Linked DNA regions of Homo sapiens. The protein of the gene in region 3 purifies or fractionates together with the protein of the main gene of each other region. This does not show direct contact. Each region holds a gene or a part of one and is shown on either strand. Other genes may lie near its edges. The genes, in order: GRAMD1A, PIGA, PCDHGB4, DHRS7, PTPRD, DAGLB and EMILIN2.

Region 1 (4,205 bases), on a different chromosome or scaffold from region 3:
TTTCGGGGGGCAATGAGACCCCTAAAGATGAGCCTTCTGATATGGAAGGGTCCAATGAGACAAGATTTTCACCGTCACCCACAACTTCAGCTCTGATGGCCTTGGAAATGCAGGCAATGCCAGACTCTGTTTCCCATCCGCTTTCCCCCTCGACACCTTCCCCGAGTGCCTAACACTTGCTCTGACCCACCACAACTGCTGGCCTGACACTTGCTCTGACCCACCGCAACTGCTGGCCTGACACTTGCTCTGACCCACCGCAACTGCTGGCCTGAGTCTACTGGGGCCTGAGGGAATTGTCGTGTGATGACATCACATTTATTGGGCATCTGCTTTGTCCCTGGCACTAGGCTCAAACTCAGGACAGCCAGCCCACATCCAGTGTTTCCTGCAGGCCTGGCACCACTCCCAATGTCAACTTGTCTCATCCTCACAACAGTCTTTGAGGTAGCATCAGTCATTATCCTGTGCACAGAGGAGTCCACGGCCACCATGGCAAAATCACTTGCACGAGGTCACACACCGGAATTGGAACCTGGTTGTCTGAGTAGACATTGTCCCTGAACTACACTGGGTGTCTGGGTCCACTCCGTTTTGGAGATGAGACCTCAGGTCCTTTGGAGAGTCTCTCCCCTTCAGACCATGTGACCCCTTAGTTACCCCAGAGTGGGGTAGCGGGTAGAGGGACCACACGTGGCCTGCCCTGGCTGTTGTGATGTGTCAGGGGTAGGCCTGGGACCCCAGCAGCCAATGAGAGTAAGCTCCGTGGTCCCCTGTGGGGGGAAAAGGGTGGCCTCCAATGAAGCCAACCCTGGAGATGGGCACAGGGCAGAGTGGGCACGAGAGACTGACTCTTACTGCCATTGAGTGACCAAACCCGGCCGTGCCTAATGTGAGACGCCTCTGGACTTTTCTCCAGGACGTGAGCCAATCAGTTCTGTCTTCCATCCATGCTTCCATGCTTTCCCCTGCAATGCTGTGGGGTGGGGACTCTGAGCGGCTTCCTCATTTTACAGAGGAGGACACTGAGATCCGGAGAGGGGAAGTGCCTGCCGCACGGTGGGGTTTCAACACAGGACCCTGCAGCCCCGCAGCCCCGAGCCCTGCCCGAGCGGCGCCTCCTACCTCATCCAGGAGCTCCACGGAGGCCCGCAGGATCTGCCTCCACTTGTGCACCTCCACGCTGTGGAATTGCTTCTGCAGCGCCAGGATCTCGGCCCACTCTGTGGCCGTCTGGGGGAACTTGCTGTGGGGATGCCAGGCCTGAGCAGGGCCTTGGCCTCCCCCGATGTGCCCAAGCCCCCCCATTTCCCCAGGCTACCCACTCACCCCTTGGCCAGGGCCAGGCTGTGCCAGGACTCAAAGGTGTGGGCTGTCCTTTCCAGGGACCAGAGGCGGTAGAAGAGCAGGACGTTGAGGGCGATGAGGATGATAAGGCTGGGGACAGGGGTCAGAGGTCAGGATTCCTGGGGTCTAGATGCTCTGAACACCCCCAAACAACTACATCTTGTAGGGACACCTCTATCCCCCATTGCAGAGGAGGAGAATTAGGCTCAGAGAGGATGAGAGACATGCCTAGGGTTGCACAGTCCATAGCAGGGAAGTCAGTGTTCAAACCCAGGTCTGTCTGATGCCCATACCCTTGACTGCCATGCCAGGCCACCTCCCTGGGGGAGCTGGGGGGCATGGGGTGGGGAGAAGAGGCTGCAGCAGGGGTGGGGTGCAGGGAGGGGAGGGCAGGGGGAGGACTCGGGACCCTACCTCACACAGATCCTGCAGCAGCAGCAGTGAGGGGAGACAGAGAGATGAGCGCCGCCTGGCCTGCCCCCGACACCCCCAGCCCTCCTCACCCGGGGCAGCTCTTGGCTGAGAGCACCACGCCCCCTCACTGGATGAGAGCTGAGAGCTGAGGCTCAGAGGCTGAGCATGTAGCTGGCCTGACCCTCACCTCGCAGGGTCTGCTCAACCCCGGGATCCTGCTTCTGTTTCCTCCCAGCGTCCTGCCCGCCAACTCCTGCAGGCTTCTGGGCAGGAGTGTGGGTTCTCCCTGCCCAAGCCCTTAGCCTACGCGGTCTCCACTCTCTCAGGACGCCCATCCTGACTGCCCCCTCTGGCCTGGGAGGAAGCCGCCGCTGGCCTCCCAGGGCTTCCCCACTCCCAGCCCCAACCCCTCTGCCCATACCTCCCCCATCCCAGCCCGGATCACTCTGGTCTGGTGTGAGGTCTATCTTTTCCTCAAGGTCACTGCGGTGTCCTCAGCATCGCCCAGCTTAGGAGTGGGCACAGAGAACATAATGTCCATAAATGACCTCACTTGTTAGGCACACCTCTCCCTGTGCACCTAATTCCAGAATCTTTGTGTGCCTGCTCCTCCAGAAAGCCCCCCTTGATCCTTGGGTGAGGTCAGGCCCCTCTGATCTCCCATAGCCCCCCCCGGCTCTGCTGTTCTAGCAGGGAAGGCTTCTCCATGACAAACCGGCACATCCCAAACATTGCCTTGTCTAATCCTTGCTGTGAGCAAACCCACGCTCCCACTTAAGCAGAGAGCTCAAAGAGGCCACACACTTGCCCAAGGTCACACAGCCAGGAGGCAGGTTCAGGCCTGTGTGGCCACTGCTCCTGTCTCTTACTCACACAATGCTGATGAGAACCAGGGCACTGGGGATGCCTGCCCCGGGGCCCTGGTCCACAGATGGTTCGGAGAAGCGGGAGCTGAGGGAGCCTGCAGGAGAGCAGCTTGGAGTCAGATGGCCCAGTCCAGGACCCCCGATCCTCCGCCTACCCCAACCCGGCCCCAACGGAACGTACCCGAGGTGTGAATGCCGGCCCGGGCACAGGGGTCAGGATCTGGGTGCTGGGGCCCGTCCCCGTGAGCCCGCCAGCTCAGGGGCCGCTTCCGCCGCCGCAGGCCGGATAGCAAGCCCCGGGCATCCTTCCCGCCTTCCTCCAGAGACAGCTTCTCAGCCTTGGCGAGCTCTCGCTCTGCGTAAAAGAGAGGGGGCTCTGGATGTCCATACCTGGCCAGGCCATCCCCCAACCCACGCCCCAGCCGGCCTTCTGTCCCTACCCAGATGGTGGAAATAGTCTTCAATGCCGCTCCACGAGTTCTTCTCAATGAGCGACTTCACCAGGCTCCACGGCTGCTTTCGGTAGCGGATCTCAGAAGACACTCTGGGGTTGGGAGATCAGGGGAAGGAGGTAAGGGTCTGACTCCAGCCCTGGCTGCCCCGTCCCACAAGCTGAGTTTTTTCCTTCCCCTAATTCAGAGAGGGCCCCTTGTCACTCACAGACAAAACAGATGGGTTCCCTACCCCCCATGGCTTCCCTGGATACCCCATACACCACCCGCCCAGCCCAAATGCCAGCCAACTCAGCCCTCGGTCCTTCTCCACCCATGCCCACTACCTGGGCAACGCTCCCGGCGGCCTGAGCCCTGTCTACTCACAGACTGACGTCTTAACCAGACCATGCCCCTGAACCTCTTCCATTCGGCTGCTGCACCCCAGCTCCACATGGGCTCAGCTCAACATAGACAGCTGAGTCCCAAACTGACCTCCTGGTCTTTCCCCAAACCCATTCCTCCCTGCCGCCCCCATCTGGGTCAAGGGCAGCTCCGAAGTTGTAGTGATTTGGGCCAAATGCCTCGGGATATTCCTTGAGCTCTCTTTCCCTCACCGCCACATCCAATCTCTCAGCAAATCCTGTCAGCTAAACCTGCAAAATCTCTCCAGAATCTAAACTCTTCCCCCTCCATTTCCTCACCCTGATTCAGCCTCCGTCCCCTCCAGCCTGGATGTCCCAGCAGCCTCCTCCCTGGCCTCCCTGCTCCTGTACCTGTCTTTGCAGTCTGTTCCCACCAGAACAGAGGGAGCCAGAAGGAGCCTGGGACCACCTGAGTCAGGTCAGCGCCCTCCTGGCTCAGAGCCCTGGCCTGGTTGCACCTCACTCCAGGTAAAGTCAAGTCTTCACCATGAGCCACATCTGGTTCACCTTTTTTTTTTTTTTTTTTTTTTTGAGACAGGGTCTTGCTCTGTCGCCCAGGCTGAAGTGCAACGGTGTGATCATGGCTCACTGAAATCTCCACCATGTCTGGCTAATTTTTTAACTTGTTTTTTGTTTGTTTGTTTGTTTGTTTGAGACAGAGTTTCACTCTGTCACCCAGGCTGAAGTGCAGTGGCCCGATCTCGGCTCACTGCAACCTCCAC
Region 2 (3,989 bases), on a different chromosome or scaffold from region 3:
TTGATGAATTTCATGTTGTCTTGAGGGAGAAGATGTCAATTATCTCTATTTGGTTTTAACTGCATGCGTACCTTAGGTGTGTTGCTTCTCCTGCATGTAATTGATATACATATAATTGATATAAATCTAATGCAAGGACTGTTTTCAAAATTTTTATATAAATAGGAAACCTAGTTAATTCACTATTTTTTCCATTAGCCCAATATTATTTGACTTTGGGGGGCCATTGTTGGAGGCACCATGAAAGGCACAAAAAACAGCTGCTTTAACTGGAAGCGTTTGCAGATTTCCAGGCCATACTGTGTAGTGATTTAAGTAATAGGGCTCAAATCATGTAAATTGCTCTGCACATACAGATTTGGACAAGTCTCTTCCTCAGTAACTTACACAACACAAGGCTTGTACGTGTAAAGCATCAATTTTAATAAAAAGGCCATTTTCCTGTTTACAAATGGCACTTTAACATTAAATTATCAAAGTTTATTAATATTATTACATACAGACTAGTTTTGGAGAAGATAAAGTTTGATATGTGTAACAAAAGTTAGAAATAATGTTCGCTGTATGAGTTTTAACCCAACTGCTTTATAAGGCTGTTTCTATTAGATCAGTGTTTGGTGATACTAATCTTGAGGTGGAGAACATTAGCAGCAATAAGAATTTAAGTGTAATATAAATAGCAGACTTGGTTTATAAATTAAATTTCTTTTGTAGCATGAGTTTTCACTCCTTTCTTCCCCTCTCATTTAAAAAATCAGGGTGCGTCTTTTGGGAGCTTTAGAACACAAGGATGTTAGAAATGTCTTAGTTCAAGGACATATTTTTCTGAATACCTCCCTTACTGAAGCATTCTGCATGGCGATCGTGGAAGCAGCCAGTTGTGGTTTACAGGTAAAAAGCTTTGAGGGCATTCATGGTTGGGATTTCTGTGTATTTTGAAAAATAATGAGACACATTCCATAATAATGTTTTAACTGGTTTTGTTGATCTTCCTGAGGTATGATTATGGTGGAGTATGTGTTCTTTCTTTCTTTTTAAGGTTGTAAGTACCAGAGTTGGTGGAATTCCTGAGGTGCTTCCAGAAAACCTTATTATTTTATGTGAGCCTTCAGTAAAATCTTTGTGTGAAGGATTGGAAAAGGCTATTTTCCAACTGAAGTCAGGGACATTGCCAGCTCCAGAAAACATCCATAACATAGTAAAGACTTTCTACACCTGGAGGAATGTTGCAGAAAGAACTGAAAAGGTATGTCACATGCTGAGAAAAGATTGTGTCTGAACTCTTACTTGATGTTTCACGTACACATTTGCTTTTTCTTACATAGATGTTTACCATTTTTGTTCTATTGCTTAAGTTGATGAAATCTCTTCCAGGTGAAAAGAAACAGATTTTGGTACACACACCGGGCTAAGTGTCTGGTCAAATTATTGCGTTTGACATTTGAAAATAGCAGTAATACAGTCTAGCCCCCTCATTAAACTGGGCATAAAGAAGTTACAAAATTTTCTAAAAGTCACAATGAGTAGAGACAAGACGAGTATTAAATCTACTCTTAGATATTTTCTTGAAGCTGTTGATAATTCTAAAGCAAACATCTCTATTAGGAAATGCATGGTTTTGCTGATTGCAGCAACTTTATAACTTGTGAATATTTAATTCAGGCTACTTCCTAAACCTCTTGTAGCCCTTTTGCTAACTACTGTGATTTTCTCCAGGAAAAGGATTTTTGCATCTTTGGGCTGATTGAGAACATAGTAAGTTAGAATTCAAAATGTACGTGACAAACGTGGGAAAAATCACAAATAAAAAGCAGCAACAGAGAATTTCCAAAAGGACAGGTATAGGAAATAGATTAACACCCTTAGGTAGGAGATTACAGTTGTGGGAAATGCTTCCTGAATTTGAATTAGGGACTGCTTTCATTCTCAGTTTCATCCTTTACGTCCTTTTCATGATGTTCTCTGCCTCATGCCTCTTATTACCATGTAACAAGCTGAACAGAAACAACTCAGCTTCTTAGTATGTAGAAATTGTGAACCAGAAAGATAACCAGGTGGAACATGGAGAAGGTAGTAGTTTAGAGTAATGCTACCAACGTGATATTCAGTGGAGCAATGAGTTTTTAGCCTAGAGTAGATAGCAAGTTGGAGCTGAGGAGAATAGCTCTTTACTGTAAGGCTTTCTTACTTGGTTTGAATGATGAATTCCAGTATATAAGATGAACTCATATGTGAATGGAAGTTCTAAAAACTTATCTCTAAAAATTGTCTTATACATTTTCCATTGAAACATGAGATGTTTGCGACAGTCAAACATTTTTGACTGAAGCATTTTGAGACATTCTGACCTTCTACAAGTCTTGTACTATCTCTCCCATATGAAACATGGAAAGTTGGAGTCTAGTGCTTACCTGTTGGGAGTACATGTCAGAGTCCCCGGGCAGCCTTTTCAGACTCTCTCTACTCCATCTTGATGTCCCCCTGCCTCCCCAACCACTCCCTAGATTCCAGTGTTATCCTTTAGGAGCAGAGATAGAATTGGGGGTATAATTGGCAGGGATATTTGGTCAGACAGGTTATTTTGATGATACCATCCTGATCTCCACTCCCTTTGAGAACCATGGCACTGTTAAGTTGTGACTTGACCTTCTTCATTGACATCGTATAAACCCCAGAAGCCTGAGCCACTGTAGGTAATAAGTTAACAGGGAAAGAACTGTGGTGACGGTTTGTCAGCATATAGTAAAGGGGCTAATTGGGATTTTTTTGGTAACCACATTTTTCTTTTGGTTAAAGTAATAGTACAGCATCTGTATTTTTTTTAATTCTATGGTGATTTATAATACACTTTTAGAAAAAAGTAAATCCTTGCCTATAATGGATTGTCATCGCTAACATTCTCTTCATAATAGTAAATTGTTATTTTATCACTTAAAACTATAAGTAGATTAATTGACCTGAAATAAAGCTGGACAAAAAAGTCAGTTTGTAGTTACTCTTTTAACCCTATGACATTTTAATTCATTTCAACTCCTCCTTCTTAGTTTAACTGTGCTATTTAGGAAATCGATCATGAAATTAATTTGGAGTTCATGCTGTAAACATACTTCTTCAATTGCAATTCACCAGTCTCAGCATAATTCTCAACATAATTCTGATTAAAATGTTTGTATTCAGAATGTCCTCAGGGTAAAAGAGCTCGATGAAAACATGCCGTACCTTTCAAGGGCTGTTGACCTGTACAACATGCACTGCATGTTATAACTTCCTTGAGTTCAAAAGGAGACGGTTTAAAGGTCTAATATATGAGACTAAGCACAAGTAATACTCAAATTACAAAATATGAATGTTGGCCCATTTGATGTGTTCTGAACAAGTATGTTTAAAGATCTTCGTTTTTTGATATTTTAGAGCTTAGTACTTAGCAGTGTTTTAAAAAGCAAGCCACCTACTTGCTCAGCAAAAAACGTTATTTCATTTGCCAGCATTTGACCTATACTATCTACTGAAATTTCCCCCATCTCTTTATCTTCTTTTATTTGAAATCCATGAAATGCTTCTGCATGTCCTCACCATCCATGCTCAGCAACATGTACAGCCTCATGTGGCTGTTGAAAGAGGAGGCTCTGTGTTCCCAGAAGTATGCTAGATTGTAGCTCTCTGCTTGTGGTTGATGTCTGCCAGATGCCGGTGAGAGCATCTCAGCTTAGTCAAGGAATCTTCAAAGGCAAATCCTGCTTCAGTACTGCTGAAGTCACTGCTGAATTAAATATTGACCCTACAGTGGTGACCCCAAAAGCTGTTCAGACTTTGCGGGACTTTGGAATTCTAGTAGTTGGCTAAAATTGATGGTGACTCCCTAGGGGAGAGGAACTGTGGCTTATTCTTTGTATCACACAGCCTCTAGCCCGGTGTCTTGCCCAGAATAAGTACCCAATAAGTTTTGAATCAAATGGCAATAATTATCGTGATTAAGTTCATTAAGGATA
Region 3 (4,205 bases):
CAGAAATAGTGAGAGACAGAGAAACATAGAGGCTGGGGATAGAAGAACACAAGGCGCTAGGAAACGGTGAAAGGAGAAACAGAAAAGAGGTCCAGGACAAGGACAGGGAGGCAGAGATAGAGAAGGAGAAAGAGACTAAGGGTCCCGTGTAGTTACTCACTCCACATTTATTGAGCACTTATGCCATGGCAGGCACAGTGGGCGGCACAGATCAATGCAAGTAGACAAATGAAAGGGACTGAGGCTGAGGTGCAGCAATCAAGACGGAAGCTAAGACAGAGATGGAGAAGAGAGGGAGAGGCAGAGATTGCAAAGCGAGATAGAGACTGAGGGAAGGACTGAGAGGTAAGAGAAAGTGGCAAAGACGGAAACTCAAGAAAAAGGGGCAGAGACACGGAGACCCCACAGACAGAGAGCAGGACAAGTAGGGGCAGAGGACAGTGGGAGGAGGGGCCGGAGAAGGGGGCCTGCTCCATGCCCCGCCCAGTCCTTCCTCAGTTCCACCTCCAGCTGTGCTGCCTCCACTCTCCCCAGGCTGCAGTCAGCCTCGGCTCTGGAGGCTCTGGAGGAGGCGCTGAGTGCGGACCGCCTCCTCCGGTCAAATGCTTTTCTGCCTGAGCCCCAGGTCATAATGGAGCCCAGCTCAACTCAGGGGAGGGGGTTAGGCAGTACATGGGCATAGAAAGCCTCGCTTTCACCCAGAGACCAGCTTAAGACCATCCTTTGGTTCCACAGTGCCCTCAGGGGATAGGAAAAGGTGCCGGTCGTGGCGAGGAGGGAAGGGGCAAGCATGTGAATTGAGCTTCCTGAACAGTCAGGGCAGTCGCCTCTTCCTTCCGGGGTCTGTGTGCCAGCCCCCCGCACACCAAGACCTCCCTGGGATCTCAAACTGAGGGAGAAGCCATCTGTAGCAAATGCTGGGCCCTCCCCCATCTCCTCCCACGTCATCCCTGAGAAAATGCCGCAGAGAAGAGGGTGGGCTGGAGAATCAGTCACCTACCCGCTGGTGCCGGGTCTCTGGGCCTGAGAGAAACGCCAGTCCGTGTTGGGCGGGGCTTGCTGTGGAGAAAACAGAGGGAAAGGGGCTGAGTACCCGTGAGAAGTTAGAATGTCACCCGAGCCCCTAGGGATGGGCCGGGAGAGAAGGAGGGGAGTGGGCACAGAGAAGAAAACGGACTAAGAGGGGGCAGGGGTGGACTCATCTCCAAAGACAAAATACACCTCAGGTCTCAGAGGTCTGAGGTACCAGAAACCAAGAGATAAATCACATTTCATCTGACCACAGTGAGCAAGCTGAGACTCCTTTCCTAAAGAAATGGCCCCTTCCTCCCTGCCCCCAGAGTCAGAACTCCTGAGCCAAAATTCAAGGACTGAAGGCATCTTCTGTGGAACTGGGGGAAGAGGTGCAGACAAAGCCCCCTAAAGTGGCAAAGGAGGCTTTTCAATGAGAATTCTACCAGCCCTAGAATGAATTTATTCAACTCCTCAGCTGGGAACAAAGCATCCTCTGCAGCAAGATGGCTGCTGTTCTTGGTAACCCTTTTGGTGCCAGGTTGTGCAGTGACACATTCACAGGGACATCTTCTCTGGGCCCTTGGCTTGCAAGAATCTCTTCCCACAGCTAAATACATTATTAATTTAGGAGTCATGCCAGATTGGGCCTTTGCGGGGCATCCAAGTCCCGGGACACTTCTCACCCCTAGAACTCCGTGCCAGACAATGGTCTGTGACTAAGGAGAAGAGAACAAGGCTGCTCTGTCTGAGACGGAGAAAAATGGAAGGGATGCAGCGGGGAGGGATCCAGCTCCCACAGCCTCCAAGCAGGGCCAACTAAGTCTCCAGGGCTCCCAAGGGGCTGATGTGTAGCCATCTCCCACCTAGCTGAAGGTGTGGGGCTCTGGCCAGCCACTTCATTCCTGAGTCCCTTCTGGTCTTTCCAGGGGGTGTGTTATCCCATCACACACTCTCATGGAGCACTCCTAGAGCCACCTCCTCACTGGTTCTGGGGTGGGCTGGTAATTAATACTCATACTTGCTCCCAGAAGCAGAGAGTGTGAGTATCTCAGATTACTCCAGGGAGAAGGAAGCTCCGGAACTGCCAGTGGCTCACTCAAGGCTCACAGGTGGCAGTGATATGAGCAGAACCCAGAAACCTAGCATTCCAGGTGTATCGGGAGTCACCAGCACCATTCTGGGGCTGCCATGGAGAAGGGCACAGGGATGGCCAGCCCTCAGCCACTGTATTCTTAGACACAGCAGAATCTACATGGAAATGCAGTGATTGTGATAGGAGGAAACGGAGCTGGGGGAACTCAATCTCCAAAAGGATAACTGGCCAAGTTTGCGCTGCGGGGACTGCTCAGAAATGAGGAGCCACAGAAGACTTTCCCCACATGTAAGGTCCTAAAAGGGAAGGAACCCCACCCTTGCCCCATCCCAGCAGAAGCAAAATCCCAGCAGAGGCAACTCCCCTCTCCTGTCCTCAAGCTTTTAAAGTTCCAAGTGCCAAGAAATTAAAAGCACACATTCTGGAGTTAGACAGGGGTTAGAATCTCTCTTACTTGCTCTGTGAACTTGAGCAAGTCACTTGACCTCTGTGAAGCTGTTATAAGAGAGGCATGTTAGTACCTAGCCAACAGCAATGGTGGGAAGAGCAAATGAGATGAGGTTCTCAAAGGAGTTATATAGTAAGTTTCTCTCAATCAGCTATCAAAATCACCTGGGGGTGTTTCAAAATACAGTCCTAGGAGCAGAGTTAGGCATTGATATATTTTGAATAAAAGCTCCTGGAGTTGGAGAAACTTGTGTTTTTTACTATTGTAGTTTCCTCACACATAAGGGCACCCTGGCATCTGGCAGAGCCTATAGCTTTCCATCTGCCAGAGGAGACAGGACTTGTTAGAGTGTCAGATAGTTTGGTCACCTCCAAATCTCTGACCCTAGATCGCTGGGCACATTGTGATCACGACGGCGCCAAAAGCCTGTATCTCTGGGGGTTGAGAGCCAGGGCGCTCGAGGCTTTCACTTCCTGCGGGAGGAAGGGGCCGCTGGTGCCACTGGAGTCCCAGTCCTGCTGTCCTATAGAGGCTCACTCACTCGCCCAACGCGGAGCCCTGCCGCGCCTCGGCCACTGGGCAGCTCTGCCTGTCCGCCTGCTCGAGGCTTCTGGGTTGAGGGGTCGCCGACCCTTGAGACGGAGTCCCGGGACCATCCGGACCTCTGGCCCAAGGATCGTAGAGTCCTGCCCGCCCGGCACTTAGAGCGGCAGTCGCTCCAGCGCTCCTGGCCCCGCGCCTCGCTCAGGCCGCCCCCCAGGCGACCCGGCCCAGCCCGGGGCGCAGGTGGGAGAGGTGAGAGGAGGCTCCGGAGTCCTCGCCTGGTCCTGGGCGGCCGCGATCTGGGACCCTCAGGCGCGCACAATCAGCTACGAGTACTCCTGAGCCCGGCGGAGGGAGCGGCAGAGGGGAGCTGCGAGTGGACCGGAACAGGCCTGTGAATCTGGCCGCGAGCGAGTGGCAGTGAAAGCTGGTATTCGCGTAAGCCCACGTGCGAGGAGTGCGTGCGTGCGTCCGCGCACGTGTTGGCGGGGCGTGGCGAGCCCGTGCAACTTGTGTGGGCCGTGGGGGTGGCCAGCAGGGAGGACACGCATGAGCCCCGCGCGCACACCTAAGTCCCGCAGACAGGTGCGGTTGGGTGATGCGGGGATAGGGAGGGTAACAGTGAAGTCACAGATGCTGGGAGCTGGGGAGAAATCGAAGAGGAAATCTACAGACCGGCGAAGCGTGCCGGAGCCGGCGCCTAGGAGGCTGGCTGCAGGGGTGGATCTGTGACTGCCTCCTCCCGGGACCCCCGACACCCGCGGAAATCGCCCGAAATTCACCGGAAGCTCGAAGGAGGCCCCGGCCTTTTTTGAGTGTAGGGGTGGGGGTCGGTCCCACCTCCCCTCGCCCACAGTCGCCACCACCCCCGGTGCTCGGAGCCCCATCCCTTAATCGGCCACTCTGGTTTCGCGCAAACGGTCCAATGATCCCGAGAATCGGGTGGAGCGCAGCCAGCGACCAAGCCGGCCGGAGAGGAGTGGATGCAAGTTCAATCCCTTATGAGGACGGGCGGCTTCTCCAGTGCCGCCCCCAGGGGTCGCCCGGGGCGGCGCCGAGCCCCTCACCTGGCTCCGCTCCCGCAGCGTATTAGAGCGGGACCGGATG
Region 4 (3,095 bases), on a different chromosome or scaffold from region 3:
CCTGGCAAAACCCCATCTCTACTAAAAATACAAAAATTAGCTGGGTGTGGTGGTGTGCACCTGTAATCCCAGCTACCCGGGAGGCTGAGGCAAGAGAATTGCTTGAATCCAGGAGGCGGAGGTTGCAGTGAGCTGAGACTGCGCCATTGCACTCCAGCCTGGCCAACAAGAGGGAAACTCTGTCTCAAAAAAAATAAAAAGAAAAAAAAATTATTTGTGAACTTTTTGTATATTGCTTAAGGAATAAAACAAGGCAACCTGATAATCCCCAAGATGTGATGTTTCTTTTCAGAAGATATGCATTTACCACTTTCAAAACTTTGCACTAAGAAAGACAAAATAATAATAATGATAATACAAAATTCAGTGTAGCCACTGTTCTTGATCCCTAAAAATAATAAAGATTCATAAAAACAAAGTTCCAGACATACAGACTAAAGAAGCAAATTCTAGTTAACAAGTACTATTAGCTTGAAATAAGCTATGCTAGCATTTTCTTAACTTAGACGCTTATCAATAAGAAAATTTATATATATACATATATATAAAATATAAAATAGTGGGAGAGAGGAAGAGTACAGACTATAAAGAATGAGGTATTATGTCCTAAAAATTGCTTTGAGAAATGACAGAATGCCCAGCTTATAATAAAGAGTGACAAAGTAGTAAGACTATATAATAAGCAATATTTCAAAGATGGTGGTAGGAAGAAAAAGGCTGTCATTTTTTTAGAAAAACCTAGATGTAAAAAAAATGCGAGATTTGCTAAATGATGTTTATATTTTACAGTTAGATATTCTCTAAACAAAACAAAATATCCTTCATATGGACATTTCTGGAAGTACTACTACAGTGGGACTGAAATTCTCTAGTCCCTGGTCCCTCTTTCCCCTTTGAAAAAAAAATCACTTCTATAATATATTCTTTCTCTGCCCTATTATTTAAATTGAGAATGTGAACCAGTACAGACATTATGGAAAATACGGAAATTCCTCAAAAAATTAAAAATAGAATTACCATCTGATCCAGCAATTCCACTTAAGGGTATAAATCTAAAGGAAGTGAAATCAGTACCTTGAAGTGATACCTACACTCCCATGTTCATTTTAGCATTATTCATAATAGCCAAGATATGGAAACAACCTAAGTGTCCATTAGTGAATGAATGGATAAAGAAAATGTGTGTGTGTGTCTGTGTGTGTATATATATATATGGAATATTATTCCACAATGGAATATTTTTCAGCCATAAAACAATGGAACTCCTGGCATTTGTGAAAACATGGATAATGAATGGACGTTAATGCTAAGTGATATAAGCAAGATACAGAAAAACAAGTACTATGTGATTTCACTTCTGTGGAATCTAAAAAGTCATACTCAAAAGCAGAGTAGAATGATGGTTGCCAGGAGCCAGAAGATGGAGGAAATGGGGAGATCTTGGTCAAAAGGTACACATTTTGGCCAGGCACAGTGGCTCACACCTATGATCCCAACACTTTGGGAGGCCAAGGTAGGTGGATCGCCTGAGCCCAGGAGTTTGAGACTAGCCTGGGCAACGTGGCAAAAACCCGTCTCTACAAAAACTACAAAACCTAGCCAGGCATGGTGGTGTGCGCCTATAGTCTCAGCTACTCAGGAGGCTGGGGTGGGAGGATTGCTTGAGCCTGGGAGGTAGAGATGGGAGTGAGCCATGATCACGCCACTGCAGACTCCAGCCTGGGTGACAGGGCGAGACCCTGTCTCAAAGAAAAAAAATGGTAGATATTTTCAGTTATAAGATAAATAACTTATGTTATTATAATTTACAGATTCTAAGGATCTAATATACCGCATGGTGACTACAGTTAATAATACTGTATAGCATATTTGAAATTTGCTAAGAAGATTTTAAGTGTTCTCACCACACACAAAAAAAGGTAACTGGGTGACATGTATTAATTAGCTTGATTGTGGTAATCATTTTACAGTGTATATTAGATCATCACAATGTATACCTTAAATATATATAATTTTTATGTGTCAATTATAAAGAAAATCTTTGATCATTAAGGAAGCTGAATATCCTGCTATATCTAACTCAAGCTGAGAAGGGGGAAAAAGCACAATAGCTAACACTTAGAACACTCCAAGTTGTGTTTTAAGTGCTTTTCATATATTAAATTCATGTAATTCCCATAACAATCCTGTGACTGGGCACTATTATCATCATTAATCTCCATCTTATATTAATAGATGGGGAGACTGAGTGATAGAGAAGTAACTTGCTTTAAGGGCATGGGGCAGAGCTGGGATTTGAACCCAGGTAGCCTAGCACCAGGCTGCATGCTCTGCCAGGAGGCTGTGCTTCCTCTGTAGTAAGGTGGCCTGTCCCTCTCAACTCTTTCCATCACTGGGCACAAAGCTACTGCATCAGCTGTCCTCCATATTTAAAACTCAGGTATACTCTTTGATGAAACTCTACCTTTAGAGCTTCTACCCACACTACCAAGTCCCAACAATACCAAAACACTCATAAGGGATCTGGCCCAAAGCAAACTGTTCCACATTACTACTTGGTAGAAAACGAAAAGCTCCTTTTTGATTTTTCACACTCTGGACATTTTAGTGTGTCATGACCCAGTCTGATAACCTTTTATGTCTCTTAAGCATTTTGTTGTGTTTGTAACTTTTTACCCCCTAATTCATTTTCACTGTCCTGCAAAGAGTTGGAATAAATTAAATGTCTAACAATTAGTGGATTGCTTAAATTTTTGCAGGTATATATAGTATGATCTTGTTTTATAATTCTTTTTTTATCTGTCAATCCCCATTGATTAATTTCTAAAAGAAGGTGGTAACAAAGTATATCAAAGGCTAACAGTAAAAACCATCCTCAGCAATAATCTTTTGCTGCATAATCATCTATAATTTTTGGTTTACTTCATTACATTTCCTGTACTGTCTATAAATTAAATTCTTTTGAGGGTCACAATTTCTCAGAAATGGTTAATAGTATTCCCTGACTAATTGCTATAAAGAATGAGTGCTGAAAGAATGATAATCAGCATATTTCCTTAGACAGGGGAATAGGCACATCTTAGATGTGCTGAGTA
Region 5 (4,205 bases), on a different chromosome or scaffold from region 3:
CTGGGATGCCTTGTATGAATCATTGCATATATAATGCTATCTGATTTACTCTGTAAGGGAACAATTAAAGTATTATGATTAAATACAGAATTCATGAACTTTTGAAATAATTCATTTTTAAGTTTGCAAATATTTACGTAATCAGCTACAGAAGTCTCAATGCATTCATCATATTAGAACTTCTGTGAATTATAGATTTTACAAACTGTCCAAAGTTATAGTTCTCAAATGTAGTTTGTGTTAAAAAGGGGACTCCTTCAGCAGCTACACGAACAGAGAACAAAGCCAGGCAAGCATTGTGTTCACATGCATTTTTTACTACTACCCACATGTAACATGACATACGTATCATAGGAATACTTCCATTCCCTTGTCTGGTTAAATAGTCCTTGCTCAGTTAAGATAAAGGCCTAGATATAGCTTCTTTATACCACATAGAAAATAACCCAAACCTCATATTTTATCTCAAGTTCCAGGAAAGGTTAATTTAGAGCACAGAAACAGAAAAAAAAAAAAAGAAAATAAAGAAGAAGTAATGGAGTGTTTCCTGTTTCTAAAGTGGAACCAGTGTAGGCCACTTACGAAAAACCTGTATTTAGAATTTAGGAAAAATACTCACATAAGCTAGCATCCTTGGGATTTTTTCCCAATAATTGGCCTCAAATCTTTATAATCAAAGTTAGAAATTCTACTCAGTGGAAAAGGATGGAGGGGGTAGAGAATGGTAGAAGGAGTGACTCATTAATCTCACGCTAGAGACAGAATTATTTCATTTCTTATTCTTCACCCAAATGGTTATCAGGATGAAAGATAAATCTTTCACCTTGGGGTTAGGTGGTCATCAGATTTCTAGGGAAGTCTGGCTCACACTTTTATCTTGTCACTTTTCCGTTTTTTTGCTGTTGATAACAATATAACCATCTGGAACCATTGAGAAGGACAGTTTATTCATGAACCATAGTAATTCCTGTTTGATTTTGCTACAGAAATCAAGGATAGGACAATAATTCAGGTACCATATTCACATTATGCACTACTCTTAGAAGTTGCACCCTCTTCTATTTTCAAACTACTTGCAGAGGTTGCACCCTCTTCTATTTTCAAGCTTGTAAATGTTGTCAAGTCAGAATCACTAGTCAGGATTATGCAATATGCATAATACGGCAGCATAAATCATATAATATTATCTAGTCCCAAATATGTATTGAGTCTCCTATGTGTCAAGGAGTGCTGAGTAAAACAGCCATGTGCTAGCAATTTGAAACTACCCAATTGTGACCATCTTATGGTCTTATAAAATGTATCCACGTTATCATAAAATTTTTGATTCCATAGAGAAAAAGGAATCTCTTCCCTAAGGCATTTCTCCCTTTATATCACAGAAAAATTTCCAGATACGTATCTACACTTACCTTATTGTCCTTCTCCTTTGCTGTCATCCTGAGTCACAGCTATTGCTTTTAGAACCTAGGTGGAAGCTGTGTTGCTTATTAGGCAGTTGCAGTCTATGCTGTTTTCCACTGGAATTTCTTGGCACCCTTCATCATCTTCTCACTCCAGTGCTAATTCCTTATGTGTGTTCAACTCTCCAAAGTTCTAGAAAGGCAGTAAAGCATGATAAAAATACGCCGTACTATCCTAATATTGACACAATATAAAAACACAAATAAATCGCCAGACCACTGCAGCAGTTTACAGTCTATGCACCAGTCCCTTATATTTCCAAATTCATAGAATACAATAGCAGTTACAGTCAAGACTCATGTTATTTTCAGCTATAACCAAAGCATAATAGCAGAAGTGCTTTGGTTTTCTCAGGAAAGAGAATAGACAGAGAAAAATGAGGAAATTCTTCCTGTACCTTTTGAGGTGAGATATTCTTATAAGAGGACTTATAATGTGTACTTTGGATCAAATAACCAAAGAGGAAGGCAAAAGTGCAATTTAAATGTTTAGAAATGTAGTGGGATTGTTAGATACTGCTGAAGTTAATAAGTTACCCTAAGTTCACGTCTTGATTTCTCTTAAAAAAAATCATGGAAACATCTATGACTTAAGTTTGAAGAGTTTCCTTTTTTATTCCCCCTGAAAACCTTTATCAAAGTACTACTCAGCAGGAACTTTTGAAAAACAGTGCCAAGATGATATATTGTTTCACCTTCAAAAAACTTTTATACCTGTAAATTTTAAAGCTAAATTATGTGCATCACAAGTATAGAAAAAATATTTCCCATTTGTAATTTCCTATTTTATTATATAATACATTCAATTAGTTCTCAATTAACACTTATCTATGGTACCTGTTTCAATGGACCATGGCTTATAATTTTAGTGTGTAAGAATTCCAGTGGCAACTCCTCTGAATAGATGTATTTATTGTGTGTCATATGTGCTAGCCATTTGTTTTCTCCTAGGAAACATATGTGGTTAGCTCTGAAAGAATAGCTTAGCCTCATCATTTATACCTGTGTGGTTGCAAGCAACAAGGCTTTCTTGCAGTATAATTGTCTCAGGGATTAAGTCTAGTGCTTTATTCTCCCATTTTCCTGCCCCTCAGGAGGATATTCCTTCCTTTTTATTTTTATTTTTTTTAGGGGCTTGAAGTCTTCCTATTTTCCCATACACCTCTCCCACTTGGAAAACATGCCAGGATTTAATAAAACAAATTACACATTCACTAAGACACATTCATACTGGCTTTTTGAAGTATTACATCAGTGCATTCTGAGAGATATTCTGATGGTATTATAGATACAGATATAGATAGCTATTTTAAGAGAAAGGAATTTCAGGCCATATTCAAGAATGCTTTGGTGTGAATCAAATGCTGCTGAATACAGAGATGAAGAAGCTAGGTCAGAATATGGTCAGAATAGGTCAGAATATATGGTCCTCACCATGGCAGGCTTTTCTTTCCTCCATTACTCATCAGTTCTCTTCCTATTTCTGTTTCTATTGCCAAGTTCCCCTCTTCTGCCTATGTTTTTTAACTTCATAGGGAGCTATGGTGACACACAGGAATGACTATGTTGGCCTTATGAACAATTAAAGGGTGTGTTATTAACATTATTAAATAGATTATACTATTGTCTGTATTGTGCATTTCTCTTACAACTCATTCATCCTTCTCATCCATATAATAATCTGCAGCTCATATGTAGTTTATCACTTCTTGTAGTGGGATTAAAAGAAGTATGTAATTACACTTTTTTGTTTCTAAATCAGAGATGGTTTCAAGGTCACTATGATCTTTTTATTCTTCTTGGTTTCTTGAATTTTATCTCTTATATACTGCCTCATGAGTTCTTGAGAAATCTTCAGATAGAAGGTAATAATAATAGCCAACACTTATTGACTGCTTCATATCTGCCAGTCACTATTTTAAGTGCTTTCCATGCATTAACTTATTTATACCCATATCATTCCTGTGAAGTTGGTACAATCATTATCTTTGATTTATAAATGAGAAAACTAAAGCACATAGAGGTTAAGTTGCCTAAAGTTAATAACGTATTTTCCCAGATGTGCATATTAGTACGGAAGGTAAATGCTACAGTTATCTAGATTCTGTACATGAAAAGCAGAAAAAGTGTGAGATTGTGGATCTGCTTTTATAAGACAAATTCTTTCAAATGAAGTGAGCACAAGTTATCATAAGTAAATGATCACAAATGTGAATGCAGGAGGACAGATACTGTAAAAGTGCTGCCCAGGGGAACAAAGAAGCAGAGGGCAAATCATATCAAGGAAAACTAACTCCAGTGTATCTCCTCCCAAAGTTGAGAGTTAAGCGTGGCACAAATGCTTCTGAGTGTATTTTTTTCTTCCTTTGGGATTTCCAATCTGTCAGAAAGAGAACCTGCTGTGCTCTCTGCCTTTCCCTGGGGTGGCCCTTCAAGCTCGGGTCCCTTTTCCTGGGAAGATTAATTCATTCAGTTCCTACCACTCTAACCTCTACAGCCTCTTGGCGTCAGATTTTATGGTATATCAGCTCCTTAAACACCTTGTTGTACTTGATAATCCATGACCAAAAGCCACAATTTTTGAACCAACCAAGAGTTTTGAGTTAGTTCACCTCATATGAGAGGCATGGTGGAATAGCAACGTGGAGGTAGGGAAGATAAGCTCATGGTGGAGTGGAGTGACATTTAGGATCAACAGGGTCCCATCTGCCAGTTACTATAATTCAGAGTATTTTAATGCAT
Region 6 (4,205 bases), on a different chromosome or scaffold from region 3:
ACGTCAGGCGCTGTGCAAGGTGCCAGGAGCACAGCCATGCACGATGGACGTGGCTGCTGATTCTGCAGTCTCAGATCCCAGGAGAGACTCACACATCAGTGCACAGCGTCATCCCATCTTTGAGTCTCTGCTGGGCCTGCCTTGTCTGAGGATTAACGGCCACCTTCTTTGTCTGTGTTTTTAGGGTATTTCTCAAGCTGCCAGATACGTTTACCAACGACTCATCAACGACGGGATTTTGAGCCAAGCCTTCAGCATTGCTCCTGTGAGATCTTAGTTAACGTTTCTTTCCTTGTCCTCTTTGGAGCTGTTGTTTTTACCCTTCACCTCATTCTGCTGTCTGTCCTCTAGGAGTACCGGCTGGTCATAGTGGGCCACAGCCTCGGGGGCGGGGCGGCCGCCCTGCTGGCCACCATGCTCAGAGCCGCCTACCCGCAGGTCAGGTGCTACGCCTTCTCCCCACCCCGGGGGCTGTGGAGGTGAGCCTTTGTTTTCCTGCTCTAACAGCTTGCTACTTACAAGTCATGTGGTCAAGACTCATCTTTTTTTTCTTTTATTTTCCTGAGATGAAGTCTTGCTCTGTCGCCCAGGCTGGAGTGCAGTGGCGTGATCTCGGCTCACTGCAAGCTCCACCTCCCAGGTTCAGGCGGTTCTTCTGCCTCAGCCTCCCGAGTTGCTGGGACTACAGACACCCGCCAGCATGCCGGCTAATTTTTGTATTTTTAGTAGTGGTGGGGTTTCACCATGTTGGCCAGGCTGGTCTTGATCTCCTGACCTCAAGTGATCTGCCCGCCTCGGCCTCCCAAAGTGCAGGGATTACAGGCGTGAGCCACCGCACCCAGCTGAGGTTTGTGTTTTGAAGCGCTATTTCACAGAAGAAAGTCTGTCTAGCCTTTCTTAGACCTATGTGACCATACCTGTAATTTCCTCAATGATTTAATTCTAAGAGTCTTTTTTCAAACAGACTTTATTTTTTAGAGCAGTTTTAGGCTGACAGCAAAACTGAGCAGCAGATTGTAGGGATCTCTCATACCCTCCCTCCCCACAAGCAAGCACAACCTCCCCCATTCTCACAGCCCTGGCAGAGGGGTCCGGTTGTTGACATCCATGCGCCTGGTAGGCACATCGCCCAGAGCCCGTAGTATGCTGAGCACTCCCTCCGCCCTCTCGGGGGGCATATGCCCTGGGTGGGGACACATGCATAATGCACATGTTTAAAGACATTTTTATGAGTTTGAAAATTACTTTTTTTTTTTTTTTTGAGACGGAGTCTTGCTCTGTCGCCCAGGCTGGAGTGCAGTGGCGTGATCTCGGCTCACTGCAACCTCCGTCTCCCAGCTTCAAGCGATTCTCCTGCCTCAGCCTCCCGAGTAGCTGGGACTACAGGCGCCCGCCACCACACCCGGCTAATTTTTTGTATTTTTTTAGTAGAGACGGGTTTCACCGTGTTAGCCAGGATGGTCTCGATCTCCTGTCTTCTGACCTCATGATCCGCCACCTTGGCCTCCCAAAATGGTGGGATTACAGGCATGAGCCACCACGCCTGGCTGAAAAGTTTATATTTTTTTTTGCTGATTCCAGCATACTGACTGTTCTGTGTAACCTTTTGCCATGATTATAAAGGAAAATTATACCACTTTATTTCATTAAAATGAAATAAAGGCCAGGCGTGGTGGCTCATGCCTGTAATCCCGGCCCTTTGGGATGATTAAAAAGTATGTACGTAAAGAACAAAAAGAGCTTTTCTTCGCACACTTGGTTTCTTTGACATATAGTTCACACAGGAAAAAACAGGAGAATGTATAAGTGCTTAAATCTTTCCCTCAATAAAGAAGTGTTCAGAATAATGAATTGTTGCCTAGCAGTCTACAGAGGCAGACATTAATTTTTTAAAACTTAAATTTCAGTCGTCTGTTTTCTTGCTGTCTTTTTTTTTTTTTTAATTGACACAGAGTGTCACTCAGTCTCCCCAGCTGGAGTGCAGCAGCACAGTCATGGCTTGCTGTAGCCTCTGCCTCCTGTGCTCAGGTGATCTTCCGGCCTCAGCCTCCCAAGTAGCTGGGACCATAGGCGCACACCACCACATCCAGCTAATTTTTGTAAGGAACAGGGTCTTGCTATGTTGCCCAGGCTGGTCTTGAACTCCTGGGCTCAAGTGATCCTCCTGCCTCACCCTCCCAAAGTGCTAGGATTAAAGGTGTTGAGCACTGTGCCTGGCCTCATTTTCTTGCTTTCTCAAGAATATTCTCAAGTTTTGGGCTTGAAATGAGCAAGTATTTTTTTTTTCCATCGTCCATATCTGGAATCAACCGTTTCTCCAAGGAATATTGGTTCCTTTTAGCAGGAAATGGTATTTCTGAACTGAAATCGGGGCACTGGTAGTTCTCATTACCACAGGGCTGGTCATAATTTCCAGGCCTTTTCATTGGAAAGAGGTAGGAAAGGCTTTTGTTACACCAAAGAGAAAATGTAACTGTAGTGTATAGTGATACTTAAACATCAGGAGGCTGGGCATGTTGGGTCACACCTGTAACCCCAGCGCTTTGGGAGGCTGAGGCAGGAGGATCACTTGAGCCCAGGAGATCGAGACCAGCCTGGGCAACATAGACCCGGTTCCTTACAAAAATTAGCTGGACGTGGTGACGTGTGCCTGTGGTCCCAGCTACCCGGGAGGCTGAGGCAGTAGGATTGCCTGAACCCAGGATGAAGAGGTTGCCGTGAGCCGAGATCGTGCCACTGCACTCCAGTCTGGGTGACAGAGCTACACTCCGTCTCAAAAGAAAAAAAAAAAAAATTGGCCGGGTGTGGTGGCTCACACCTGTAATCCCAGCACTTTGGGAGGCCAAGGCCGGCAGATCATGAGGTCAGGAGATCAAGACCATCCTGGCTAACACGGTGAAACCCTATCTCTACTAAAAATACAAAAAATTAGCTGGGCGTGGTGGTGGGCGCCTGTAGTCCCAGCTGCTTGGGAGGCTGAGGCAGGAGAATGGCGTGAACCTGGGAGATGGAGGTTGCAGTGAGCTGAGATTGTGCCGCTGCACTCCAGCCTGGGAGACAGAGCGAGACTCCATCTCAAAAACAAAAAAGTCCTTTCTGTCACCCCAGAGGTAGAATGTGGTGGTTTTGACTGGTGTTTCCATTATGTCCATGGCTGGAAGGAAGCGTGTCTGTGTTCCTCTCCTCCTGTTGATGAAAGCCTGCACCTTTTCCCTGCTCTTCTGTCTCTGGTCGTGGCTGTTCACTTTCACCGCATGTCCTGAGATGACCCCGCAGTGGCACACACAGTCCTCCTCCTTCTCCCAGCTGTGCGGGACGCACTATTATGTGACTCGTTGTTGGGAGCTGAAGGCAGTTCTGTGGATGGGTGTTTGGAGGCTCCAGCCTCTGCCGGTGCAGGTTCTGCCGCAGTGAATCGCCTGTTGCCTCTGCCCCTTCATTTTTGCTGGGGCATCTTTTTTTTTTTTTTTTCTTTTGAGATGGAGTCTCGCTCTGTCGCCCAGGCTGGAGTGCAGTGGCGCGATCTCAGTTCACTGCCAGCTCCGCCTCCCGGGTTCATGCCATTCTCCTACCTCAGCCTCCTGAGTAGCTGGGACTACAGGCGCCCACCACCACGCCTGGCTAATTTTTTGTATTTTTAGTAGAGACGGGCTTTTACCGTGTTAGCCAGGATGGTTTCAATCTCCTGACCTTGTGATCCGCCTGCCTCGGCCTCCCAAAGTGCTGGGATTACAGGCGTGAGCCACTGCACCCGGCCTCCAGTGCATCTTTGATGGAGTCTTCCAAGCGCGGTTTCTGGGTCAAAGGACAGATCCATGTGCTTGGTCCGCCTTGGTGTCCAGTTTGCGGTTTTAGCTGCGGGGCGTCTCTGTTGAACACATATTGTGGCTTTAGTAGGATCTGGCCAGTGAGTTGCCATAACTGACGTTTCCCCTACCCTCCCTTTAGAGAAGAGAGAACAGAGCTGAGGCCTGGGAACCTAACCCCTCAGTGTTACTGATTTCTTTCATGGAAGCCCTTGTGGGCAGTGTCATCGTAAAGCTAACATCCTCTCTCTGTTTGGAATTTCAGCAAAGCTCTGCAGGAATATTCTCAGAGCTTCATCGTGTCACTCGTCCTGGGGAAGGATGTGATTCCCAGGTAAGCCCACCTGGTGCTGTGCCCAGGGCTGGGGGGTTGGGAGTGCCAGGTCCCAGCCTCAGTGT
Region 7 (4,205 bases), on a different chromosome or scaffold from region 3:
AAAAATAAAATAGCAAGAAAGAAATTCACAAGCTGTTTCTAAAATTTATATGGAAGCGCATAGGAGGATCTATACTGCTTGATTTTAAGACTCACTATAAAGCTAAATGAGTAAGCCACCAGGAGAGACCTCAAAAACTGGAACAGAATCGAGTCCGTAAGTGGGCTCACACAAAGCTGACTTCTATTGGTGGCGCAGTGTCAGTCAGTGGTTCATTCTGTGTCCTCCCTCCCCCCCACCTCCTCTTTCTTTTTGGGCACAGCTTACCTGGGGTGGGTAGATCCCTCTGCCTCTGGGGTAGCCTTCAATTTCCAGGACTAGAGCTAGCGGTTTTTTTTAGTTATAAATTTAATTACAAATTCCTGGCCCTCACCTCATCCCTGCTGCTGAGCAGCGATCTCCTGAGTGAGCCGAGGAGTTTTTTGTTTTTGTTTTTTTTAAAGATCCCAGAGGCATTTATGCATGCAGCTCTGGGAAAGCTCCATTCTCCGAACACTGCAGCTCTAAGTTCAAGGCTAAGATGCAGTAGAGCAGCTGCGGTTTACACGAACCAAAGGGCATCGTAGAAACCTGGTGCCTACAGGATAAAGGGGGCGAGTTGTCAGGAGTTCCCTATGGCCTGAATATAAGCAATTTATTGAGCCTTTATATGTTTATAAAACTCTAAGTCCATCATGCTACCTTGGGCCTAAACTCTCCCCAAACTCAGCTGATTTTGAGTTGGGGCAAAGGGGTCAGAATGTTGGCATCAGGCAGTGCCCTGGCCAGGCTTTCTGGTTAAATAGTTATTTGACAAGGCTGTGCTTTTTCATTCTTATAGCTTAACTCAATAAAAATAGTACGCTTAAACCTGCAGCACTCCTAAAAGAAACGCTATGATGAAAATTACTCAGAGACATGAGCAGAAAGGGGTGGGAGAGCAGAAAAAGGAAGTGATGCCATTATCTCTAGTGTGCTGAGATCTAAGAGACATCTGTCTCTACTTGGAAGCGTGACATCTGGAAAGAGAAGTCCCCTGCACACAGCTACGTCCCTCTGCCTTCCCTTCCTGCTCGCCACCAGCACCCCTTCCTTCCTCTACCGGGAGAGGAACAGTGGGAAGGCAGGGTCCAGCTGAGGCTCAACCTGTGTGTGGGGCCAGGGGAAGCTAAAGCCAGCTGGGGAGGGCGGGCTGCCCCATTCTCCACATGCTGCTGCCACTGGGCTGCAGGCCGGGCTAGTCCTGGGTCCCAGGCAGGGAGTCAGCCTCTGCTGGTCACCCAGTGCCTGGGAGGCAGACCCTGTGGCCAGGACACACCCCCACTTGTGGGGATACCTGTGAGTAATTCCCTATGAATCACTCATGGGTCACTCAGACTCGAGTGGGGGTAAGGCTGGGCAACTTGGGAAAAAGGAACAAAAGAGGATGCCTGCTGAGAGAGTGTGAAGGCCTGATGCTCCCCGCACCTGTGAAAATGGGAGCGAGTCCATCTGGGAAGGAGGGCTCAACTCCGTGGCTACACTGCATAGGGAATAAAGGGCCTCGAGCCTCCTTTCCATTTATAACCTAATTTGTTCATAAGTGATGAGATTCTGCTCAAAAAAACTATCGATACACGAGATACATGAAGCTGTGAATGCTGAAAAGGGAGATCTCTAGGCTTTTTTTTTTTTTTTAAAGAGACAGGATTATGCTGTACTGCTCAGGCTGGAGTGCAGTGGTGTGATCATAGCTCACTGCAGCCTCAGACTCCTGGGCTCAAGGGGTCCTCCTGCCTCAGCCTCTCAAGTAGGTGGAATCACAGGTGCACATCACCACACCCAGCTAATGTTTAATTTGTACAGACAGGATCTCACTGTGTTGCCCAGGCTGGTCTTGAACGCCTGTGCTCAAGTGATCCTGCTGCCTTGGCCTCCCAAAGTGTTGGGATTACAGGCATGAGCCACCGCGCCCAGCCATTTCTAAGGCTTTTTATACTGTCTATTTGAACGCTAATTTTAAAAACAAGAAAAAGGGAAAGCAAGAAAAACAAAAAAACCTGTGGCCACCTACAGCATCACCGGAGCCACCAGGGCCCTTCACCCTGTGTCTGCTGTGTTTACAGGCCCTCTCTCTTCCAAGGCTGGAGGCCTGGGGGTTTATAGGTAGAGAAAGGGAGAAAAGTTCAGTCATGAATAGATTAAACATCCATTCTAGGGTATGGAGGGTTTAAGTAATAGGTAATTTTCCTGAGTGATTACTAAGTCCAGGACATTAGTTAATCCTCCACTGTTTACAAGCATGGATGAGCAGGGATTTCAACGGAAGTAATCACTCCCCAGCTCAAAATCCTTCAATAGTTTCTCACGGTACTTAAAATCCAACTCCTTTATCACAGCCTAGAAAGCCTGCCTGATCTCATTCCTACCCTCGCTTTGACCTCATTGCTGATGACCTTCTGCCTTGCTTATACGCTTGGCCATACCACTATTCTGGGTTTTTCAAAAGAACTTCCTCATAGCCTTTGAGAATGCTGTTCCCTCTGCCTGGACCATTTTCTCAAAAGTATATATTTTTTTGTATTTTTTGTAGGGACAGGGACTCCCTGTGTTGCCCAGGCTGGTCTCGAACTCTTGGGCTCAAGCGATACACCCGTCTGAGCCTCGCAAAGTGCTGGGATTACAGGCGTAAGCCACTGTGCCCAGACTTGTGGACCTTTTGTCTCCCGACCCCCATCTCCAAAAAAAAAATTGTCCAGGTGCACTGGCTCATGCCCGTAATTCCCAGCACATGTAATTACAGCACATGCCTGAATCCCAGGCTGAGGCAGGCGAATCACTGGAGTCCAAGAGTTTGAGACCAGCCTGGGCAACATGGTGAAACCCATCTCTAAAAAAATAAATAAATAAATAACAAAAAATTAGCTGGGTGCGATGGCACGTGCCAGTAGTACTAGCTACCTGGGTGGCTGAGGTGGGAGGATCACCTGAACCTAGGAAAGTTGAGGCTGCAGTTAGCTGTGATTGCACCACTGTACTCTAGCCTGGGTGACAGAGCAAGATCCTGTCTCAAATATATATATATCTGACCGGGTGCAATGTCTCATGCTTGTAATCCCAGCACTTTGGGAGGCTGAGATGGGTGGATCACCTGAGGTCAGGAGTTCGAGACCAGCCTGACTAACATGGTGAAACCTTGTCTCTACTAAAAATACAAAAATTAGCTGGATGTGGTGGCAGACACCTGTAATCCCAGCTACTTGGGAGGCTGAGGCAGGAGAATCGCTTGAACCCGGGAGGCGGAGGTTGCAGTGAGCCAAGATCACGCCACTGCACTCCAGCCCCAGCAACAAAGGGAGACTCCATCTCAAAAACAATTATATATATTTATTTATTCATTATATATATGCAATATATACATATGCTATATATATATATGCCCTTAACAGAAGGATATAAAAGAGACTTAGATCTATTTAAGCATCAGCTGAAGGCCCTTCTTCTCCCCTGTTGGCTGCTTCTTGGATAATTCAGCCTCACCTCAGTGATGCTTCCAAAGGAAACAGGATCTGTGAAGAGGGCAACAGGCTGAGTAGAAACACCACAGTGTGTGTTCCCGGTCTGGCGATCTGCTTACTGGTCCAAAACCATCACACATCTTCACCTCTGGATCTGTGCTCACTGTGGTAGATATCATGACCACCATTAATCCCCCTTCCCTCCCCAAACATACCAGCCACGTCACCCTTCAAGAGCAGACCTGCTTTGACAATAGAATGTGGCAGTGATGCCACTCCAGCTCTGGGCTAGCCTGTGGGAGGCCCAGCAGCTTCCACTTTCCCTTGACAGTCGCCATAGTCTGACTACTTGACACCGCCATGCTGTGAGGAAGCCCAGGTTGGCCACATGGAGAGAGGGGCCAGGTGGAGGAGCACCGAGGCACCAGACATATGACTGAGTCTTCACAGACCTTCCAGTCAACCGCAAGCTGAATGCAGCTGAGTGGGCGACTCAAGCTGATGCCACATAGAGCAGAAGAACCGCTGAGCCAAGCCCTGCCGGGGTTCCTGACCTACAGAATAATGGAAACTAATACATCTTTGTTGTTTTAAGCCAGCAAGATTTGGAATGGGTTGTTATAAAGCAATAAATAGCTAATCCACAATGTCCTCCCCTCCTGCTTTCTGAATCCCACCCATCCCTCAATCAGATCCAGTAACACCTCCTCCTGGAAGCTTCTCTCATCT

What was found.
Region 1: the proteins of PCDHGB4 (region 3) and GRAMD1A purify together in Homo sapiens (affinity purification with mass spectrometry; 2 studies listed by BioGRID and IntAct, with this or other methods). This does not show direct contact.
Region 2: the proteins of PCDHGB4 (region 3) and PIGA purify together in Homo sapiens (affinity purification with mass spectrometry; 2 studies listed by BioGRID and IntAct, with this or other methods). This does not show direct contact.
Region 4: the proteins of PCDHGB4 (region 3) and DHRS7 purify together in Homo sapiens (affinity purification with mass spectrometry; 2 studies listed by BioGRID and IntAct, with this or other methods). This does not show direct contact.
Region 5: the proteins of PCDHGB4 (region 3) and PTPRD purify together in Homo sapiens (affinity purification with mass spectrometry; 2 studies listed by BioGRID and IntAct, with this or other methods). This does not show direct contact.
Region 6: the proteins of PCDHGB4 (region 3) and DAGLB purify together in Homo sapiens (affinity purification with mass spectrometry; 2 studies listed by BioGRID and IntAct, with this or other methods). This does not show direct contact.
Region 7: the proteins of PCDHGB4 (region 3) and EMILIN2 purify together in Homo sapiens (affinity purification with mass spectrometry; 2 studies listed by BioGRID and IntAct, with this or other methods). This does not show direct contact.

The regions. Positions count from the first base shown.
Region 1 is NC_000019.10:35,020,468-35,024,672, reverse strand, and holds part of GRAMD1A (protein Aster-A), read right to left. Parts: intron 3,172-4,205; coding exon 3,068-3,171; intron 2,983-3,067; coding exon 2,809-2,982; intron 2,723-2,808; coding exon 2,635-2,722; intron 1,774-2,634; coding exon 1,762-1,773; intron 1,438-1,761; coding exon 1,330-1,437; intron 1,247-1,329; coding exon 1,126-1,246; intron 977-1,125; coding exon of another isoform or gene 932-976; exon of another isoform or gene 888-931; intron 1-887. UniProt on the Homo sapiens protein: Cholesterol transporter that mediates non-vesicular transport of cholesterol from the plasma membrane (PM) to the endoplasmic reticulum (ER).
Region 2 is NC_000023.11:15,321,922-15,325,910, reverse strand, and holds part of PIGA (phosphatidylinositol N-acetylglucosaminyltransferase subunit A), read left to right. Parts: intron 1-758; coding exon 759-891; intron 892-1,039; coding exon 1,040-1,246; intron 1,247-3,989. UniProt on the Homo sapiens protein: Catalytic subunit of the glycosylphosphatidylinositol-N-acetylglucosaminyltransferase (GPI-GnT) complex that catalyzes the transfer of N-acetylglucosamine from UDP-N-acetylglucosamine to phosphatidylinositol and participates in the first step of GPI biosynthesis.
Region 3 is NC_000005.10:141,491,661-141,495,865, reverse strand, and holds part of PCDHGB4 (protocadherin gamma-B4 isoform 1 precursor), read right to left. Parts: coding exon of another isoform or gene 3,989-4,205; intron 1,060-3,988; coding exon 1,001-1,059; intron 1-1,000. Other genes in the region: PCDHGC5 (protocadherin gamma-C5 isoform 1 precursor), read right to left, coding at 1,001-1,059, 4,166-4,205; PCDHGC4 (protocadherin gamma-C4 isoform 1 precursor), read right to left, coding at 1,001-1,059; PCDHGC3 (protocadherin gamma-C3 isoform 1 precursor), read right to left, coding at 1,001-1,059; PCDHGA12 (protocadherin gamma-A12 isoform 1 precursor), read right to left, coding at 1,001-1,059; PCDHGA11 (protocadherin gamma-A11 isoform 1 precursor), read right to left, coding at 1,001-1,059; PCDHGB7 (protocadherin gamma-B7 isoform 1 precursor), read right to left, coding at 1,001-1,059; PCDHGA10 (protocadherin gamma-A10 isoform 1 precursor), read right to left, coding at 1,001-1,059; PCDHGB6 (protocadherin gamma-B6 isoform 1 precursor), read right to left, coding at 1,001-1,059; PCDHGA9 (protocadherin gamma-A9 isoform 1 precursor), read right to left, coding at 1,001-1,059; PCDHGB5 (protocadherin gamma-B5 isoform 1 precursor), read right to left, coding at 1,001-1,059; and 11 more. UniProt on the Homo sapiens protein: Potential calcium-dependent cell-adhesion protein. May be involved in the establishment and maintenance of specific neuronal connections in the brain.
Region 4 is NC_000014.9:60,145,489-60,148,583, forward strand, and holds part of DHRS7 (dehydrogenase/reductase SDR family member 7 isoform 1 precursor), read right to left. Parts: intron 2,734-3,095; exon of another isoform or gene 1-2,733. UniProt on the Homo sapiens protein: NADPH-dependent oxidoreductase which catalyzes the reduction of a variety of compounds bearing carbonyl groups including steroids, retinoids and xenobiotics.
Region 5 is NC_000009.12:10,602,846-10,607,050, reverse strand, and holds part of PTPRD (receptor-type tyrosine-protein phosphatase delta isoform 1 precursor), read left to right. Parts: intron 1-4,205.
Region 6 is NC_000007.14:6,412,901-6,417,105, reverse strand, and holds part of DAGLB (diacylglycerol lipase-beta), read left to right. Parts: intron 1-184; coding exon 185-265; intron 266-351; coding exon 352-479; intron 480-4,071; coding exon 4,072-4,140; intron 4,141-4,205.
Region 7 is NC_000018.10:2,895,316-2,899,520, reverse strand, and holds part of EMILIN2 (EMILIN-2 precursor), read right to left. Parts: intron 3,640-4,205; coding exon of another isoform or gene 3,500-3,639; exon of another isoform or gene 3,331-3,499; intron 1-3,330. UniProt on the Homo sapiens protein: May be responsible for anchoring smooth muscle cells to elastic fibers, and may be involved not only in the formation of the elastic fiber, but also in the processes that regulate vessel assembly. Has cell adhesive capacity.